4 linked regions of the Homo sapiens genome follow. The gene in region 4 interacts genetically with the main gene of each other region. Each region holds a gene or a part of one and is shown on either strand. Other genes may lie near its edges.

Evidence for each region. A genetic interaction does not mean that the proteins touch.
Region 1: changes in PARP1 (region 4) and CAMK2B together harm fitness less than expected from each alone (positive genetic interaction), as found in Homo sapiens cells (one large-scale study listed by BioGRID).
Region 2: changes in PARP1 (region 4) and CYP4F12 together harm fitness less than expected from each alone (positive genetic interaction), as found in Homo sapiens cells (one large-scale study listed by BioGRID).
Region 3: changes in PARP1 (region 4) and LIG1 together harm fitness more than expected from each alone (negative genetic interaction), as found in Homo sapiens cells (one large-scale study listed by BioGRID).

The regions. Positions count from the first base shown.
Region 1 is NC_000007.14:44,241,909-44,246,547, forward strand, and holds part of CAMK2B (calcium/calmodulin-dependent protein kinase type II subunit beta), read right to left. Parts: intron 1,620-4,639; coding exon 1,517-1,619; intron 1,426-1,516; coding exon 1,342-1,425; intron 747-1,341; coding exon 652-746; intron 433-651; coding exon 310-432; intron 1-309. UniProt on the Homo sapiens protein: Calcium/calmodulin-dependent protein kinase that functions autonomously after Ca(2+)/calmodulin-binding and autophosphorylation, and is involved in dendritic spine and synapse formation, neuronal plasticity and regulation of sarcoplasmic reticulum Ca(2+) transport in skeletal muscle.
Region 2 is NC_000019.10:15,675,134-15,679,772, reverse strand, and holds part of CYP4F12 (cytochrome P450 4F12), read right to left. Parts: intron 1,513-4,639; coding exon 1,368-1,512; intron 1-1,367. UniProt on the Homo sapiens protein: A cytochrome P450 monooxygenase involved in the metabolism of endogenous polyunsaturated fatty acids (PUFAs).
Region 3 is NC_000019.10:48,160,159-48,164,797, forward strand, and holds part of LIG1 (DNA ligase 1), read right to left. Parts: intron 2,194-4,639; coding exon 2,104-2,193; intron 1,350-2,103; coding exon 1,214-1,349; intron 1-1,213.
Region 4 is NC_000001.11:226,397,203-226,402,676, forward strand, and holds part of PARP1 (poly [ADP-ribose] polymerase 1), read right to left. Parts: intron 5,178-5,474; coding exon 5,012-5,177; intron 1-5,011. UniProt on the Homo sapiens protein: Poly-ADP-ribosyltransferase that mediates poly-ADP-ribosylation of proteins and plays a key role in DNA repair.

The DNA of each region.
Region 1 (4,639 bases), on a different chromosome or scaffold from region 4:
GGTTGTCTGTCCCCACCCGCCTGGGACTTCAAGACTCGTCTCTCCCTTGCCTCGTCCACTCTGCCCCTCACAGACAGGACTGCAGTTGGGAGGAAGGGATCACCTCTACCCTCTAATGCCTTCCAAGCCCCAGGCCTCACAAACGTGCTGGTATGTCCCAAGCCAGAGGCCACAAGGAGCACCCAGGGGACCCAAGGGAGCTCTTGGATGTCAGGAACAGGACCCTCTTGGGGTCCTTGCCAGGGGAGTGGTCTGAGGCCATCTCCACCAGGAGCCCCCTCCCCACCATGGGCACCAAGGGCGACTCACGCAGACCCACGGGTGCTTCAGGGCCTCATGGGCTGTGATGCGCTTGGCAGGGTTGATGGTCAGCATCTGGTTGATGAGGTTTTTGGCTTCAGGAGTGACGGTGTCCCACTCAGGGGACGGGAACTGCAGAAGGAAACAGCGCCCCGGCCGGGCCTGAAGCTCCCTCTCAGGCAGGGGCAAGAATTCTCCAAGGGGCTTCATCTCCAGCCACGAATCTGGGAGAGCAGGACCCAGGACCTGGCCACAGGTGGCTTCACCCCACTCCTAGCCTCTTCCCACGCTGCCCTCACCCGGCCACACCTGGAGGAAGGGAGCTCATCAGAGAGGGGCTGGTGCACTCACGTCATAGGCACCAGCCTTGATCTGCTGGTACAGCTTGTGCTGGTCCTCGTCCCAGAAGGGTGGGTAGCCCACGAGCAGGATGTACAGGATCACCCCTGCGGATGGGGCCTGTGAGCACCGCAGCCACTTGCAGGGTGCCACCGTCCATGAAGCCCATGCCCTGCACCCTCACTGCCTAGCTCCTGTGGCCCTGGGAGGGCATTGGGGTCCTCAGCATTCCTTTGCCCCCACCTGTGCAGCAGACACTGGGGTAGAAGGGCACAGCCGGCCCCCTGACCTCTGCCCCACACCCACACTATCACAGGGATGAGGGTGATGTCAAGCCCCTCTGCTGCTCCCCACCTCTGTGGGAGGAGACCCCTACCCAAGGAGGTGGCCCTGCCCATGGCCCAACAGCCCCTGACCTCTCTTCTCCACTCCCATCCACCCACCACACTTCTGGACCAGACCTCTGCTGAGCGCAGGCGAGCACTGGGGTGCGCCAGGTTCATGTGAGCAATTCTAATCTGGGTGGAAAGGGGGCTCTTGGCTGTGTGGGCAGACCCCTGCCAGGGCAGCTCAAGGGCAGGTCTGACACAGATAAACCCAGATGAGAGCAAGACGTGCTGGCCACTGCACACTCCAGGATGTAGGTGGGAAGTCCTGAAACACCCGAGGCCCTGCCCCGCACCAACTCAGGCCAGGCCTCACCACATGCCCAGATGTCCACAGGCTTGCCATACGCCTCTTTGCGAAGGACCTCAGGGGACAGGTAGCCTGGTGTGCCAGCGAAACCTAGAGAGAGGGGAAGAGGCCACAAGGGGCTGTCAGCATCACCTCCTGCCCTGCCAACTGCCAGCCAACACACCCTGCCCCTGGCACTCACCAAACCATGCCTGCTGGTCCCCCTGCACCTCGATAGCTAGGCCGAAGTCTGCCAGCTTCACTGCAGCCCCTTTGCACTTGCTGGCCAGAAGCAGGTTCTCCGGCTGCAGGGAGGTGACCGGCACAAGGGTGCATGTTGTTTAAACCCAGAGGTGTTATGTGGGGTTGGGTGGGGGGTTACAAAACAGAGAAAACAGTGGTTTGCAAGAGACAGGTGCACAGGTCTGAGCCCTGCCCCATGGTGTCTGCAGGGCATGGCTGAGCCTTCACCCCAGAGTCCCAGACGCTGAGCCTGCAACCCCACAGCCCCTCTGCCCCTGGGGACAGAGACACAGCAGCTCTGGCCTTTCAGAGGAAACTTGGCTCTCAGCCTGAGCTTGGATCCCCATAACCTGGAAGGGCGACCTGGGGGCTAGTTGGACCAAAACCTCAAGCTCATCCTTACAAGCAAACTAAATGTTCCCCACAGCCCTGGGGCAGACTGTGCAGTGGCTGGGGGCTCCCATGGCCCTCGGACTCCCACTGGCTGAGAGGCTGCAATGGCCCTCCCTTCCCTCCCTGTTTCTCACTCCTCAGAGACCTGGGATGTTGGGGGCTGCTTGAGGGGAAGTTCAGGTATTTCCTGCTGAGATGGTGACCCCCAAAGGGCAAGGAGAAACGCCCAGGGCCCTCAGCACTAGGGGCAGCCCAGGACATCCACCCACCAAGTCCCCCTGGCTCTGGTCATCCCCACTACATGGGGCAGGAAGGAGGCCCCTGCAATGACCCCCTGCCCGCTGGGTATCCACAGGTTGGGGGGTTACTCAGGCCCTGACACAGAGAGCAGTGCCCTTGCTCAAGCCAGAAGGACATCTGCTCCCTATCTTGCAGCAGCGGCCAAGGAGGCCTGGGGGCACTTGGCACTGAGGGCCTGAGGGGGTCCCAGGGCCACTGCATCCCATGGGACCTTCCTGTCCCAGCTTTCAAACCCCATCGGGCTCTGGCCTACCCATCAGCCTCACCATCTCCCAGCGGTGGGGTCTCTTGGCTGCAGGCCTTCCTTGTCCCTGACCAGCAGGGGGCTCCCTGGGGCCCTCGGGTCCCTTGGCCAGCCTCCCAGGCCACCCCTTTGCCCTGGTGAGTACCCCGCTGTCCTGGCACTGCTTCCATCTGATGCACTACCCTCGGGATCACACTGCCGCTTGATGAGCCGCCCAAAGAGACAAAACAGACCACTCCACCCACTTTTAACACTGGTTGTAAACCTCAGAGATCTTGAAATGTGAAAAAGTGACCCCCAGAATGAATGACATATGCTATCCCCATGTGGAAAGACTGCCACAGCCCCGAGCTGTGAGCGCCCCTCAGCAGAAACCCAGAGCTTCCTCGAAAGCTCCAGCCACGCCCTACTGAGCAGGCGGGATGAGGCCGTGTGCCCCCTTGACAAGGCAGCATTGGGGGCTTCTGTCCCCCACCTCCACCTCCTCGTCACCTTGGGGGTCCCAGCCTGCTGGGGCACACGCATCCGTGTCCACCGAGCACCAATCCACAGGCCACTGGACATGGTGATTTTGCCAACGTGAGTGGGTGGAGGCCCCAAGCTCCCCGTGCAGCTACATGGAGAAGTTGGACAGAGGAGGGGTCAGGGGCTGCATTTCTCCACCCAGCCCAGAGCAGACTTGCTGCATGTCCCCCCTCCCCAGAGGAAACAGACCAGCAGTTCTTCCGAAGAGAAGGAGCGTTAAGTGAACATGGACCGTAGGAAGCACTGGGCAAGAAGGCCTGGAGGCTCCAGGGTAGCTCTCAGGCTGTGCCCACCCCTGCTAGGCCACCCAGTGATGCCCCCACCCTGGCTCTTTTGCAGTTCCCTGGGATGACATCAACTGCCCTCTGCTCTCTACCACCCTCCCCAGTGGGGTGAGAGCAACCCCACTACTCTGCTGCTTCCTGGGCTGTCACGATCAAGATGGTGGATTTCTGTCCAGGAGAAAAGGACATCCTGTCCCCCTCAACAGGAGGTTGAGACAGCAAGAATTCTGTTTGTCCCCCAAATTGGGGAGGAGGTACCACTGACCTCTACTTCTATGCCTTGGCTCCAGAGTTAACCAGATAAATCATGGGGTCTGGTAACACAATGTCTGTGGCCCCTCACAGGAGAGCCACTGAGTCCTAGCACCAACCCACGTGGCCCCGAGGGGAGCACCTGGGGGCCCCCTCCTCCCAGAGGCGCCTGAGTGAGGCTGACTCAGGTGAGACAAAGCAGGACATGCTTGGGATGCAGAGATGAGAGGGAACAGGGGGTACGGTGGCGTGTAAAGGGTATAGGAGAGGGTCCCGGATCTGCTCTTGGTGTGACACTCTCCCCAGAGCAGCACAAAGATCATCGATGGCCTAAGGAAAGGTGTGACCCCCATTCAGCATGAAAACCAATGGGGAGGTTGGTCTTAAAAATGCCATCAGGGTGATGGCCCCAGGGTCTGCACTGCTTGCCTGTCTACAGAGAAGCAGCAGGCTGAACCAAGCCTTGGGGAAGGTGGGGTTGAAGAAGGAGGAAAGGAGATTGGAAGGAAGGAAAGGGAGGAAGGAAGGGAGAGAGGAAGGAGCAGAGAGACAGCTAAGCTTCTGAGAGGCCACCCTGTGCCCTGGGGGGTGACCAACCTTCTTCCGAACACAGCCTAGAACTGCTTTGCCCAGACCTGAGCTGGGGGCAGCAGAGACTTGAGGAAAGGGCTGGGAGGACTTGGCAGACCCTGGCGAGTCCTGCTCTCACCACTCTGCTCCCAGCGGCGTCAGCCCTGTCACCTGTGTCCTCATCTGCCACAGTGGAGTCTTGGTGGGGGCTCACAGTTAGACCCTGAGTGGACATTTGTTACTAGCTGATTTCTCTATTGCCCAGGCTGGAGTGCGGTGTAATAGGCTGATTTCTGAAGACTAACCCCTCCCAGCCCTGGAGGTCCGGAGGGGTAGGGAGGGCCATGTGCAGACACCCCTCCAACACACAAGTGCACACACATGCACATGTACACACATGCCCACACAGACACACACACACATGCATACACGCACACATGTACCCACATGTACACATTCACATATGCATGCGCATGAACATGCCCACACATGTACACACTTGTACACACTTGCA
Region 2 (4,639 bases), on a different chromosome or scaffold from region 4:
TCAAGCGTGATTAGAATGGATTCCGAAACCTGGCTCAGGGAGACTAAAATAATAACTCTGACAATTCCAAAGAGACCCTAGCTCCCAGACCTTGGACAAGCTACAAACATGGCCAAGAGATGACAAGGAGGAGAAAAGACAATTTCAAATCACATGTCAGAGAAGAACCAGAAAGTCTCTGACATGCCCCAAGTGTCCTCGACCACAGCTGAGCCACACACATGATGACTTCTCCATATGATCCCAGGTTAAACAGAAAAGATATAACCAGGTATAATATTGAAACTATAGGCGGCTATTTATGGGACCCCTGGGGGTAAGGTGAGCTTTCGGACAAGAACTGAGCTGCTAGGACCCATGGTTGACAGATAAGAGAACGGCTGCCTTAAAAGAAAAAGTGATGCAGAGAAATGGTGAAATTAAGAAAAGGAGACAGATCCCTGATAATGTTCATTGACACCTGGATTCAGCCATGCCTGAAGACCACCCTCCCTGAAATTTACACTCCTTTGACTCTCTTTATTTGCTTAGAGCACACGAAGTTGAGTTTCCATCACTCACAACTGAAAGAGACCTCAGCAGCCAGAGAGCTGGTGACCTGCACAGAGTCACTAAGGATTTGGGGGTCAGAGCCATAGATTTTGTGGGATGCTGCCACTTCCCTAGCTCAGCCTGGTGTGTCCAAGGATGAGAAGAGCAGAGAGCAAGGGGAGGTCAAGCAGCTGGTGTGGGTTCTCCTATTGGAGAATCCTGAAGCCCATAGGAGGAGAGCAGGAAACTTAGGGTGGATGAGTGATAGGATGAGGTAGAAGGAACTGACCCATCATAGGTGGATGTCACATAAATAGCAGCCCAGATTCTCCACCAGCCACAAATCCTCCTACCGCTTTGGACTGAGGGATGGGCAAGGCTGGTGCAAGGACTGGCTGGGACCCCAAATACCAATGATGCCCACTGCATCATCCTGCCCCACACTTAAAAAATCCTACTTATTGGTCTAGACATAGCTCCAACAACTCTTCCTCCAGGAAACATTCCAGCCTGCCCCAGCAGACACCCAGTTCTCTGTGTTGTCATACCCATCTCTCTCTTGCCCATTCCTGACCCTATGAGGCTGGAAATGTCTCTGTCTAGACCCGTGTCCTTAAGCATGGGGGTTCCTTCCAGAAAGGGCCCTGAATTGAGGCCTCTTGGAGCCCCAGTGGTGCCCAGAACACCAAGACAGGGAGCAGATGGCAATGGAGGGAGAAGACATTGAGAAGGAAGTCTCAATGAGGGGCACGAGTACTCAAGGAGGGACGTGGGTACTGCAGAGACCACACAGAAGCTTGGTCTGGCACCCACCACCACAAGCTCTGCATGGGTACCTGAGGCATTGGTGATAGACCGGATGGTGTCAGGGTGGCATAAAACGATGAAGGGGATGATGGGACCCAGCCATACCGTAAAGCCCTGGGAATAGGTGGCCGACATCTGGGTCGAGTTCTTCAAGCCCTCCTCTGTAGGAGTGATCTGAAAGCAAGTCAAGGGCTGTCACTTCCTGTGATGGTTAATTTTAGGTGTCCACTAGACTGGGCTAAGGGATGCCCAGATAGCCAGTCAAACATTATTGCTGTGTGTGTCTGTGAGGGTGTTTGAGAAGAGATTAGCATTTGAAGGTAAACAGGATGGAAATAGTAGTGCAGAGGAATGAGTGAGTGAGGAAAGGAATGAGTGAGTGAGGAGAGGAATGAGTGAGTGTGGAGAGGAAGGAGTGAGTGAGGAGAGGAATGAGTGAGTGAGGAGAGGAATGAGTGAGTGAGGAGAGGAATGAGTGAGTGAGGAGAGGAATGAGTGAGTAAGGAGAGGAATGAGTGCATGGGTAGAGGAATGAGTGAGTGAGGAGAGGAATGAGTGAGTGAGGAGAGGAATGAGTGAGGAGAAGAATAAGAGTGAGCAGAGGAATGAGTGAGTGAGCGAGCAGAAGAATGAGTGAGTGAGGAGAGGAAGGAATGAGTGAGGAGAAGAATGAGTGCATGGGTAGAGGAATGAGTGAGTGAGGAGAGGAATGAGTGTGTGGGTAGAGGAATAAGTGAGGGAGGAGAGGAATGAGTGAGTGAGGAGAGGAATGAGTGAGTGAGGAGAGGAATGAGTAAGTGAGGAGAGGAATGAGTGAGTGAGGAGAGGAACGAGTGAGTGAGGAGAGGAATGAGCGAGTGAGGAGAGGAACGAGTGAGTGAGGAGAGGAATGAGCGAGTGAGGAGAGGAATGAGTGAGTGGGTAAAGGAATGGGAGGAGGGGAATGAGTGAGGAGAGGAATGAGTGAGTGGGTAGAGGAATGAGTGAGTGGGTAAAGGAATGAATGAGTGAGGAGAGAAATGAGTGAGTGAGGAGGGGAATGAGAGAGTGAGCAGAGGAATGAGTGAGTGAGGACAGGAATGAGTGAGTGAGGAATGAGTTGAGTGAGGAGAGGAATGACTAAGTGAGCAGAGGAATGAGTTGAGTGAGGAGAGGAATGACTAAGTGAGCAGAGGAATGAGTGAGTGAGGAGAGGAATGAGTGAATGGGTAGAGGAATGAGTAAGTGAGGAGAGGAATGAGTGAGTTGGTATTGGAATTAGTGAGGAGAGGAATGAGTGTGGGTAGAGGAATGAGTGAGTGAGGATATGAATGAGTGAGTGAGCAGAGGAATGAGTGAGTGAGGAGAGGAATGAGTGAGTGAGGACAGGAATGACTGAATGAGGGGAGGAATGAGTGAGTGAGGAGAGGAATGAGTGAGTTGGTATTGGAATGAGTGAGTGAGGAGAGGAATGAGTGAATGGGCACAGGAATGAGTGAGTGAGGAGAGGAATGAGTGAGTGGGGAGAGGAATGAGTAAGTGAGGAGAGGAATGAGTGAGTGAGGAGAGGAATGAGTGAGTGGGTAAAGGAATGGGAGGAAGGGAATGAGTGAGGAGAGGAATGAGTGAGTGGGTAGAGGAATGAGTGAGTGGGTAAAGGAATGAATGAGTGAGGAGAGAAATGAGTGAGTGAGGAGGGGAATGAGTGAGTGAGGAGAGGAATGAGTGAGTGAGGAATGAGTTGAGTGAGGAGAGGAATGACTAAGTGAGCAGAGGAATGAGTGAGTGAGGAGAGGAATGAGTGAATGGATAGAGGAATGAGTAAGTGAGGAGAGGAATGAGTGAGTTGGTATTGGAATTAGTGAGGAGAGGAATGAGTGTGGGTAGAGGAATGAGTGAGTGAGGATATGAATGAGTGAGTGGGCAGAGGAATGAGTGGGTGAGGAGAGGAATGAATGAGTGAGAAAAGGAATGAGTGAGTGAGGACAGGAATGACTGAATGAGGAGAGGAATGAGTGAGTGAGGAGAGGAATGAGTGAATGGGCACAGGAATGAGTGAGTGAGGAGAGGAATGAGTGAGTGAGGAGAGGAATGAGTGAGTTGGTATTAGAATGAGTGAGTGAGGAGAGGAATGAGTGAATGGGCACAGGAATGAGTAAGTGAGGAGAGGAATGAGTGAGCCGTCTCCCTTGGTTCTCTGGGTTCCCAGACCCCAGCCACCATCAATACACAGCTCCCTGAACCCCTACTGGAAGTCCCACCCCTCTGGAAGTCCACCCACCCTGAGACGCCAGACCCCATCCAATCCATTGAGGGCATGAACAGGACAAAAGGCAGAGGAAAGGAAGAACTTGCTCTCTCTTCTGCTGCTGGGATATCCGTCTTCTCCTGCCCTCAGAACTCCAGGGACTCAGGCCTTTCTGGACTCAGGCTGAATTTACACCACCAGTGTCCCTGGTTTCTGGCTTGCAGATGATATATCATGGGACTTCTTGGCCTCCATCATCACATTATCCAATTCCCATAATAAATTCTTATCTCTCTATCTCTTTCTGTCTCCATACATACATGCATTAGAGATAAGAAGAAACACCCTATCTGTTTCTAAGGAGATTCCGTTTCTAGGGAGAACCCTGACTAATGCACCTCCCTAGATGAAGCCACAGCAAGTCCCCCCACAGCCACCGGATGTGGTGCAGCCTCTGCAGTGAGCAGCGTGTCTGGATTCTCAGCAGCTGCAGTGGGTTTCTGCTGACTTCTGCTCCTTCTCTCTTGGAGCTGTCCCCAAGATCCAAGGGTAAATACCAAAGCAGAGAGAGAAGACAAGCTGTCTGCTCAAGAGGATGTGTTTTCTCATCCTGGATTGATTTCAATCTGGGGATTGCTATATGGGAAGGTCCCCATGGAAGGAGGTTTGTGGGCAGCAGTGTGGCCTCAGGACATATCCCTAGAGCTGGTTGCCATATCCTTTTGTGTCCTGGTTGGTCCACATGGGCACTGGTTCCTCCCACAGACAAAGGGCCTGCGTCCTGAGGGCCCTCCATTCTCAGCAGCCTCCAGGGGAGCAGAGGTGACTCTAATGTCCATCAGGATGGCAGCTCCCACCTAGGAGAGCCTCACTTATGCCAGGTTCTGTGCTAGTGCCTCCTGTGCACCTGTGGACACACCGATCAATCCTGCCTTTTGTAAGTGAGCAGACAGAGGCCACATCCCCCAAAGGGGAGGGCCGGTCCCAGTCGGAGGGAAAGGTTTGGGAGTACCAAGGACGGCTTCTGAAAGGGGAAGGGAGTGGCCAAATTATATCCAGGTTGGGCTACAGGGC
Region 3 (4,639 bases), on a different chromosome or scaffold from region 4:
CTCCCAAACTGTAAGACAATAAACTGACACTGTTTTAAGCCACTGCGTTTGTGGTCAATTGTTATGGCAGCAAATGGGAAGCTAACATAGGTGGTGAGGAAAGTTTCGCTGAGGAAGTGATATCTGAGCAAAGCATGGAAGAAAGCAGGGGACTGAGCCAGGCGTGTATCTGGGAAAGAGAGTTTTAGGCTGGGAAAGAAGGTAGTGGCCCAGAGGTGGAAGTGCACCTGGTGGGTGTGGGAAGCCAGGATGGAGCGAGCTGAGGAGGAGCTGTGGATGCGGCTGCAGATGTGATGGGCGGGGGAAGAGAGGAGCAGCAGGAGGGGCCTGGGAGGTTTCCACAAGGCCTGGCTTTGGCCTGTGGTGGTAATACCAGGGGGTTTGGGCAGGGAGTCACAGGACCTGACCTCACCACTGACAGAATAAGCAGCACCACGCTTTGGACATCATCCACAAAGCAATGAACAAGCATTAAATGACTTAAACAGGGGAAGAGAGTGGTCCAATGTATTTGGAGAAGTTAAAAAGCCCTCTGACCACAGGAGAGGCTAGATATACTTTTGAACCCTTATTTTTTTGCTTTTTTTTTTTTGAAGCAAGGTCTTGCTCTGTCACCCCGGCTGGAGTACAGTGGTACAATCACAGTTCACTGCAGCCTTGAACACCCGGGCTCAAGCGATCCTCCTGCCTCAGCCTCTCAAGGAGATAGCACCACAGGCATGCACCACCACACCTGGCTAATTTTTAAAACATTTTTTTGTAGAGATGGGGTCTCGCTATGTTGCCCAGCCTGGTCTCGAACTCCTGGCCTCAAGTGATCCTCCCACGTTGGCCTCCCAACGTGCTGGGATTACAGACGTAAGCCATTGTGCTGGGCCTTGAGCCCTTGTTTTACCATCAGGCATTATTCTCAGATCTGTATGTAAATCGACTCATTTCATCTTCCCAGTCACCCTATGAGGAAGGTGTTACCAGGAGCTGCATGTTACAGTTGAGGCATCCAAGACCTAACGTGGTGAAGGAGCCCACCCGAGGTCCTAGGGCAGGGGCAATTAGGACCAGGTTGTGTCTGCCCCCGACACAACCAGGAAACACATCTACCTCTCCCGGGCAATTTCTCCAGAATTCTCCTGAACAGCTGCTGCACTCTGTTCCAAAGGTTAATGGGAATTAGTTTCTTCTGGTAAAAATGGGCAGGGTGATGGGGACCTACCTGGCCTTTAGCAGGGCTAAGGGCTTCATCCTCCTCTTCCCCTTCGCTGCCCAGGACCCGGGCCGCCTTCCTCCCTGGCCTCTTCACCGGAGAGTCACTCTCGGACACCACTCCATTCCACTCCTTCAGTGCCGCCCTGGAAGGTGGGGAAATGGGGGTGTAAAGGGGCGACTACAGCAGGCAGAGTGGGGGCACTGCCCGCAAACACTTTGGTTTCTTTGCTGTTTCCTTCCCTTCCTTTCAAGCATCCAATGAACATTTTCTGGTTGTCTCCTCAGCAAATCTCATCATTTCATCCATCAGTGCATTAATCCACCCGCCCACTCATCCACTCACCCACCCATCACACATCTCTGGAAGTCTCCAGAGTGCCTGCCCTGTGATGGGTGATGCTGAGGAGCAAATGGAGTCCCTGCCTAAGGTTGCCATTGGTCTCCAGCATCTATTGGGATGCCTTTTTTTTTTTTTTTTTGAGATGGAATCTTGCTCTGTCGCCCAGGCTGGAGTGCAGTGGGCCGAGATCACACCATTGCACTCCAGCCTGGGTGAGAGTGAGACTCCATTTCAAAAAAAAAAGAGTACTGTTGTCTTCTACTTAGATGAGACAGCATCAAGACGTGGCCAGTGGCCAGCGGCCAGCTTCTCTGCATTATGGAGAATGTCTGGTTCTAGAACGAGGCCAAGACCTGCAGAAACAGAGACGTACAGACAACTCCGAGGCCCTGGATCCAGCTGTGCCTGCAGCTGCTCTTGCTCTTGGACTTCTGGCCACCTGGCTGAAAAAGTTTTTTGGGCCCCAAGACATTTTGCATTAGGTTTGAACACTTGCAACCAAGACAATCCTGACTGCTAAAGGAAAAAATTCACCATATCCCAGCCCTGTGACATACTTTGGAGGGGGCTCCGTCTCTCTGCTGCTATTGGATGCCTCCTTCTCAGGCTTCTTTGCTTTACCCTCTTTCTTGGGGTGGAAAAATGACCTAGAGGAGCATAAAAGGGGGTAAAAAAAGGAGAATAACAGCACCAATACCCTGCCTATCTATGCTGTATCCTATAACTTCCTTTTTTTTTTTTTTTTTTGAGACAGAGTCTCGCTCTGTAGCCCAGGCTGGAGTGCAATGGCGCAATCTCAGCTCACTGCAAGCTCCGCCTCCTGGGTGCATGCCATTCTCCTGCCTCAGCCTCCCAAGTAGCTGGAACTACAGGCACCCGCCACCATGCCCAGCTAATTTTTTGTATTTTTAGTAGAGATGGGGTATCACCGTGTTAGCCAGGATGGTCTCGATCTCCTGACCTTGTGATCTGCTTGGCCTCCCAATGTGCTGGGATTACAGGCATAAGCCACCGCGCCCGGCCGCATCCTATAACTTCTAACACCATTTCCATCTCAGCACATAACAGAGAATTTCAAATAAGCCCTTTAACTTAACTGATAAGGAAACTCAGACTCAGACAAAGGAGGCAACACTAATTTTTCTGCCCTAACGCACCTGCAAGATATGATACATCCCAAGTTTTATTCAACAAATATTAACTATGCACTTTTTAAATCTTTTTTTTTTAGACAGACTCTCGCTCTGTTGCCCAGGCTAGAGTGCAATGGTGTGATCTCGGCTCACTGCAACTTCTGCCTCCCAGGTTCAAGCGATTCTCCTGCCTCAGCCTCCCGAGTAGCTGGGATTACAGGTGCCCACCACAACGCCCAGCTAATTTTTTTTGTATTTTTGGTAGACACGGGTTTTCTCCATGTTGGCCAGGCCAGTCTCAAACTCCTGACCTTAGGTGATCCACCCACCCTGGCCTCCCAAAGTGTTGGGATTACAGGCATGTGCCCCCGCGCCCAGCCTAAAAAAATTTTTTTTTTTGAGATGGAGTTTTCACTCTTGTTGCCCAAGGGTGGAGTGCAATGGTGCAATCTCGGCTCACTGCAACCTCGGCCTCCCAGTTTCAAGTGTTTCTCCTGCCTCAGCCTCCTGAGTAGCTGAGATTACAGGTGGCCGCCACCACGCCCGGCTAATTTTTTTCATTTAGTAGAGAAGGGGTTTCACCATGTTGGTCAGGCTGGTCTCGAACTCCTGATCTCAGGTGATCCTCCTGCCTCCCAAAGTGCTGGGATTACAGGTGTGAGCCACTGCGCCCGGCCTACCTAAGCACTTATTATGTGCCAGGGCCTGTTCTGGGCCTGAGGGGTTTGGCAGTGACCCAGACACACGAAGTTCCTGCCTTCAAGAAGCTAACACTCTGGTGAAGGGCAGAAATATTAAGCAAACAACTAAATATAAAATGTTGGGGCCTGGCATGGTGGCTCACACCTGTAATCCCAACACTTTGGGAGGCCGAGGTGGGCGGATCACGAGGTCAGGAGATCAAGACCATCCTGGCTAACACGGTGAAACCCTGCTTCTACTAAAAATACAAAAAAAATTAGCTGGGTGTGGTGGCAGGCGCCTGTAGTCCCAGCTACTCAGGAGGCTGAGGCAGGGGAATGGCCTGAACCTGGGAGGCAGAGCTTACAGTGAGCCAAGATCGCGCCACTGCACTCCAGCCTGGGCGACAGAGCAAGACTCTGTCTCAAAAAAAAAAAAAAAAAAAATGTTGGAAGGCGTGAACATTAAAAAAAAAATCTGGTGAAATCTGAATAATAAAGTATGGAGTTCAGTTAAGAGTAATGTACTGACATTAGTATCTCAGTGGTGAGAAACGGATCATAGTAATGTATGATATTGACAATGGAAACTGGCCAAGGGTATACAGGACCTCTCTGTACTGTCTTTGCAACTTTCCTGTACCTCTAAAATTATTCCAGAATAAGAGGTTTATTTAATCTTCAAAAAGAAAAGGAAAAATCATGCAAAAGCCAGTGGACAGAAAGCAATCGAAGGCACCATCAGCCCTGGAGAGACAATCCCCAGATTCCTCATCACGGGAGAAAAACGGAACCCAGCATTTGTGTAAGCCACTACCGCCCAGGTTTCTGGGATGGATGCCCTTGTCTGGGTCTCTCTACCATCCATTTTTTCCTCCTGGTAACAGCCCCTCCGTTTTCCTCTTGGGATGCTTCTTACCCCACATTCTCTCAGTACACACGATTTGAGTGGGCTGGCCCTTTTGCCTGTGACCAGGGGTGGACACGTGATCCAGGCTGCATCCCTGTGGCTGGTTCAGGGATAGGTATGTGGCCCAGGCTGGGCCAGTGAAACTGGGCTCTAACACCCTCTTTCCAAGGGGACCGCTAAGAGGGGAGAGCCCGCCTGAGGGTGAGGACAACCTCAAGGACAGTAGAGCTGAACAATGGAGAGAGACAGATTCCCAGGGAGGAAGTTTTGGCAACTGGATCGAACCAAGCCTGAGGCTGTTTACTCCAGCAGGTTTCAATGATATAAGTCAAGTCATGCCCTTTCTTGTCTTCCTGAAGCCGGACTGCAT
Region 4 (5,474 bases):
CCTAGCTTCTCCAGAGGCTGACGTGGGAGGATTGCTTGAGCCCAGGAGTTAGAAACTGCAGTGAGCTAAGATCATGCCGGTACATTCCAGCCTAGGCAACAGAATGAGAGCTGTCCTCTGTTAAATCTGACATACTCACCCTCTGAACCCTTTCTTGGCAAATTTATTTACTTTTTAAAATTCCCAATTCTGAGCCGTTACTAACCTGTTTGCAGTAAGCAGCTAGTCAGACATACCAACAGCTGCAAGGACCAGCTGCTGCAAGGGCAGACAGTGATATGGTTTGGATCTGTGTCCCCACTAAATCTCCTATCAAATTATAATCCCGAATGTTGGAGGTGGGGCCTGGTGGGAGGTCACTGGATCACCGGGACAGATTTCTCCCTTGGTGCTGTGTCATGATACTTGTGAGTTCTCCTGAGATCTGGTTGTTGAAAAATGTGTAGCACCTCCCCTTTCACTCTCTTCCTCCTGCTCCGGCCATGTCAACTGCCGGCTTCTCCTCTGCCTTCTGCCATGACAGTAACAAGGTTGGAGGACTGACACTACCCAACCTAAAGACTTACTATGAAGCCACAGCAGTCAACACAGTGTGGTACTGGCAAAAGGATACGTAGATCAGTGGGACAGAACAGGGAGCCCAGAAACAGAGCCACACAAGCACAGTCCACTGATCTTTGACAAAAAAGTAAAGGCAAAAATGGAGAAAAGATAGTCTTTTCAACAAACGGAGCTGTAACAACTGGACATCCACATGCGAAAAAAAAAAAAGAAAAAAAATAAAGGAATCTAGACACAGACCTTACACCCTTCACAAAAAGTAACCAAAATGGATAACAGACCTAAATGTAAGACACAAAACTGTTAAACTTCTAGAAGAAAATCTATATGACCTTGGGTCTGGTGATGACTTTTTACAAACACCAAAAGCCCAATCCACTAAAGAAGTAACTGATTAACTAGACTTCACAAAATTAAGAACTTCTGCTCTGCGGAAGACCAGCCACACACTGAGAAAAAATATTTTCAAAAGACATATGACAAAGGGCTGTTATCCAAAATATACCAAGAACTCTTAGGACTCAACAGTAAGAAAACAAACAATGTGATTTTAAAAAGAGCAAAACCAGGAGTTTGAGACCAGTCTGGGCAACAAGGTGGGGCCCTGTCTCTACAAAAAATTTAAAAAAATTAGCCAGGCATGGTGGTGCGCACCTGTAGTCCCAGCTACTCAAGAGGCTGAGGTGGGAGACAGAGGTCAAGGCTGCAGCGAACTGTGATCACACCACTGCACTCTAGCCTGGGCGACGGAGCAAGACAGTCTTAAAAAAAAAAAAAAAAAGTGGGGGTAGGGGCAGGCAAAAGACATTTCACCAAAGATATACAGATGGTAAATAAACGTATGAGAAGATGTTCAAGATAATTACAGTATTAGGGAAATGCAAATTAAAACAATAATAAAATACTATATATCTATTGGAATGGCCAAAATCCAAAACAATGATAACACCAAATGCTGGCAAAGATGTATAATGATACGAACTCTCATCTATTGCTGGTGGGAATGGAAAATGATTCAGCTTTTTGAAAGACAGCTTGGCAGTTTCTTACAAAACTAAATATACTCTTACCACATGATCCAGCAATTGTACTCCTTGATTACCCAAAGGAGTTGAAAACTTATGTCCCCATAAAAACCTGCACATGGTGGGTGTTTCTAGCAGCTTTGTTCATAATCACCAAAACTTGGAAGCAATCAAGATGTCCTTCAGCAGGTCAATGAATAAACAAACTGTGGTAATCCAGACAATGGAATATTATTCAGTAATAAAAAGAAATGAGCTATCAATACGACAAGACATGGAGGAATCTTTTTTTTTTTTTTTTTTTGAGATGGAGTTTCGCTCTGTTGCCAGGCTGGAGTGCAGTGGCATGATCTCGGCTCACTGCAACCTCCGCCTCCCAGTACAACCAATTCTCCTGTCTCGGCCTCCCGAGTAGCTGGGACTACAGGTGCACACCACCACACCGGCTAATTTTTGTATTTTTAATAGAGACAGGGTTTCACCATATTGGCCAGGCTGGTCTCGAACTCCTGACCTCGTAATCTGCTGGGCTCGGCCTCCCAAAGTGCTGGGATTACAGATGTGAGCCACCGTGCCCGGCTCGACATGGAGGAATCTTAAGAGCACATTGCTAGTGAGAGAAGCCAATCTGAAAAGGCTACCTTCTGTATGATTCCAACTATATTATATTCTGGAAAAGGAAAAACTATGGAGAAAGCAAAAAGATCAGTGGTTACTGGAGGTTAGAGGGGAGGGAGGAATGACTAGGCAAAGCACAGAGATTTCCCAGGCAGTGAAAGGACTCTGGAGGCTACCATAAAGGTACATGCATGTCAATGTATGTTTGTTAAAACTGACAGAATGTACAATGCAAAGAGTGAGCCCTCATGTAAACTACAGACCTCGAGGGATAACGATGTGTCAATGTGGCTCATCAGTTATAACCATGGACCACTCCGATAACGATGTGTCAATGTAGCTCATCAGCTATAACCATGGACCACTCTGGTGGCGATGTTGATTGTGGACAAAAGTCTGTGTATGTGTGGGGTGGGTAGGGCTAGCGGGTATATGGAAACTCTGTACTTTACTCAATTTTGCTGTGAACCTAAAACTGCTATAAGAAAAAAAGTCTACATACAGAAGAATGTCATGAACCTGGGAGGCGGAGCTTACGGTGAGCCGAGATCACACCACTGCACCCCAGCTTGGGTGACAGAGCGAGAATCCGTCTCCAACAACAACGAAAAAAGTTTACATATAAAAAAAGGTTAAACAGACAATGGAACAGAAATTTTTAAAAGGACCCCAAAATACAGAGATTTTGTGCATGATACAAGACACCTCTCAATGGGGGAGATGAATAAGCCAATAAACAAAGTACAAAAAATTAGCTGGGCATGGTGGCAGGCACCACGCTACTCGGGAGGCTGAGGCAGGAGAATCGCCTGAACCCGGGAGGCGGAGGTGGCAGTGAGCCAAGACCATGCCACAGCACTCCAGCCTGGGCAACAGAGTGAGACTCCATCTCGAAAACAAAACAAAAACAAAAACAACAACAAAAAAACAAAGTAGGGAAACTAGATCATCATCTGGAAAAAAATAAAACTGGAGTCACGCCTCACACCACACATCAGCACACACCGGGATAACTCTCAAATAGAGTAAACATTTAGATGTTAAAAGAAATAAGGAACCATAAAATTACACGTACTGGATGTAGTTCATCTGTATCCCCAGGGTGGGCTACCTGACAGTGGCTGCTGGTGCCACAGCCTTGTTCCCTAGCACTGTCACTGCCTCAGGGTAAGGGCCACACCCTGGCATACCCACCCTGTAGTGACCACCACAGTAACAAACACAGCACTGTCACCAACAGGCCAACTCTTTCAAAACCAGGGACTGAGAGTCCTCCCGCCACTTCCAGATCTAGAGGCAGCTCTGGCTGCAGGGCGTGACTGTGCAGAGGCCAGGAACACAGTCTGGAAGTGCAGAGAACCACAGCACCTCCAGCGAGCTAAAACCAATGAGAAACAAGAGGCAGAAAGAACCAATGGATAATGCTGCTCCCTTCCTCCTGCTCCGAGGGGCTTTTCTGAAGCTTAGTGGCAAAGGACTTGCGTGAGGGCATCCTGCATGACCAAGCCATTGGCTGTTTCTCATGAAGCCATGGCCAGCTTGACAGCGTATGGCACTGTGCTTGCCCTCCTGCCTCCCCTTCCTCCCTCTCTCTTGCTGCCCTAGGATTACCTCTCCTAATAAAGCTTTTAATAGCTTTGCTTTCTGCTCTGCTATGTCACCTGACGTGACCTGTACTAAGACATGGGAGAAGACATAAAAGGAGAAAACTGTGGAGACAGTAAAAAGAGCAGTGGTTGTCAGGAATTAGGAGGGATAAACAGGGGATTTTTAGAGCAGTGAAACTGATGCAGGGCAGGCCAGCCCTAAATTGGGGATTGGCCTGGGCGGGTCCTTGGCTTCGCTCTGGAAAGCATTTAAGAGCGAGCTCGTGGTAGAAGAAAGCAGCTTTATTGAGGCAGCAGTGTTATGGCTCTGTGACTGCTCCTGCAGAGCAGGGCTACCCCACAGGCACTGTGCTGAGAGCAGCAGCTCAAAGGCAGTTCTGAAGTCATATTTACACCCACTTTTAATTATATGCAAATTAAGGGGCAGACTATGCAGACATGTTAAGAAACGGGGTGGTAACTTTTAGGTCATCAGATTGTTGTCACAGAAAGGGGTGGTAACTTCCGGGTATTGCCATGGCAATGGTAAACTGATATGGCACACTGGTGGGTGTTTTATGGAAAGCTGCTTCGTCCCTGTCCCTGCTTTAGTTAGTCCTCGGTTTGGTTTGGTGTCTGAGCCCCACCTCCTACCTCATTCCCCTCTCAGAGATGAGCTATTCTTCCTTAATCTTAAGGGGGCTGCAGAAGGGTGCAGGTCTGAAACTACTCTGTATGATACTATAATGGCAGATGCATGTCATCATACATTTGTCCAAACCCATAGAATGTAGAGCATCAGGAGTTTCTGGACTCTGGGCAATAATGATGTGTCAGTGTAGGTTCCTCAATTATAACAAATGTACTACTCTGGTGGGAGGTGTTGACAAGGAAGAGCCTGTGTGGTGGGAGGGGGAGGGGGTACTGGAAACTCTTTGTTCTTTGCTTACTTTTGCCATGAACAAAAATAAAGTATATTAAAAACAAAACAACTTTAAAGGCTACATTCCAAGCACCTGGAAAAACAAAATACCAAATATCATGCAACAGATGATGCTGAGTCCAGGAGGTGTTGCTGAAATAACATGGGCACCATACGCTTGATCTGCACATGTGGGAGAGGGCAAGCTGGGGGAGGTTTGCTTTGCTCTCTGAGACGAGGCCCTCCTGGGAGCTTCAGGGTGGGGGCTGAATGCCCATGCTGCCCCAGTATGTACACACCTGTCACTCCTCCAGCTTCCGCTGTCTTCTTGACTTTCTGCTGGTCATCCCACCGAAGCTCAGAGAACCCATCCACCTCAACGTCAGGGTGCCGGATGGAGTGGCCCACCTTCCAGAAGCAGGAGAAGTGGTACCAGTGTGGGACTTTTCCATCAAACATGGGCGACTAGAAGGAAGAGAAACAGAGGGAAGTAAGTAAGCAGTTAACTTTTGACTTAGACCCACTAGACCTTGACCTTGACCTCGACCCCAGTCCCAGCCCCAGCAGTGGGATAGCACATGAAACTTTTGTTCTCCTATCTGTGAAAGGAGGACAGCCTCCGCTCTCACATGAAGAGCTGCAGCATCCTTCTCACGATCTTCCCCAAGGGTCAGAAGACTGTAGCCCACTGTTCTTGAGCTCATTCTCTTAGGACACCAAACACAGCCACGAGAAAGGTGGCCTTTTACCACTGAGCTCTGC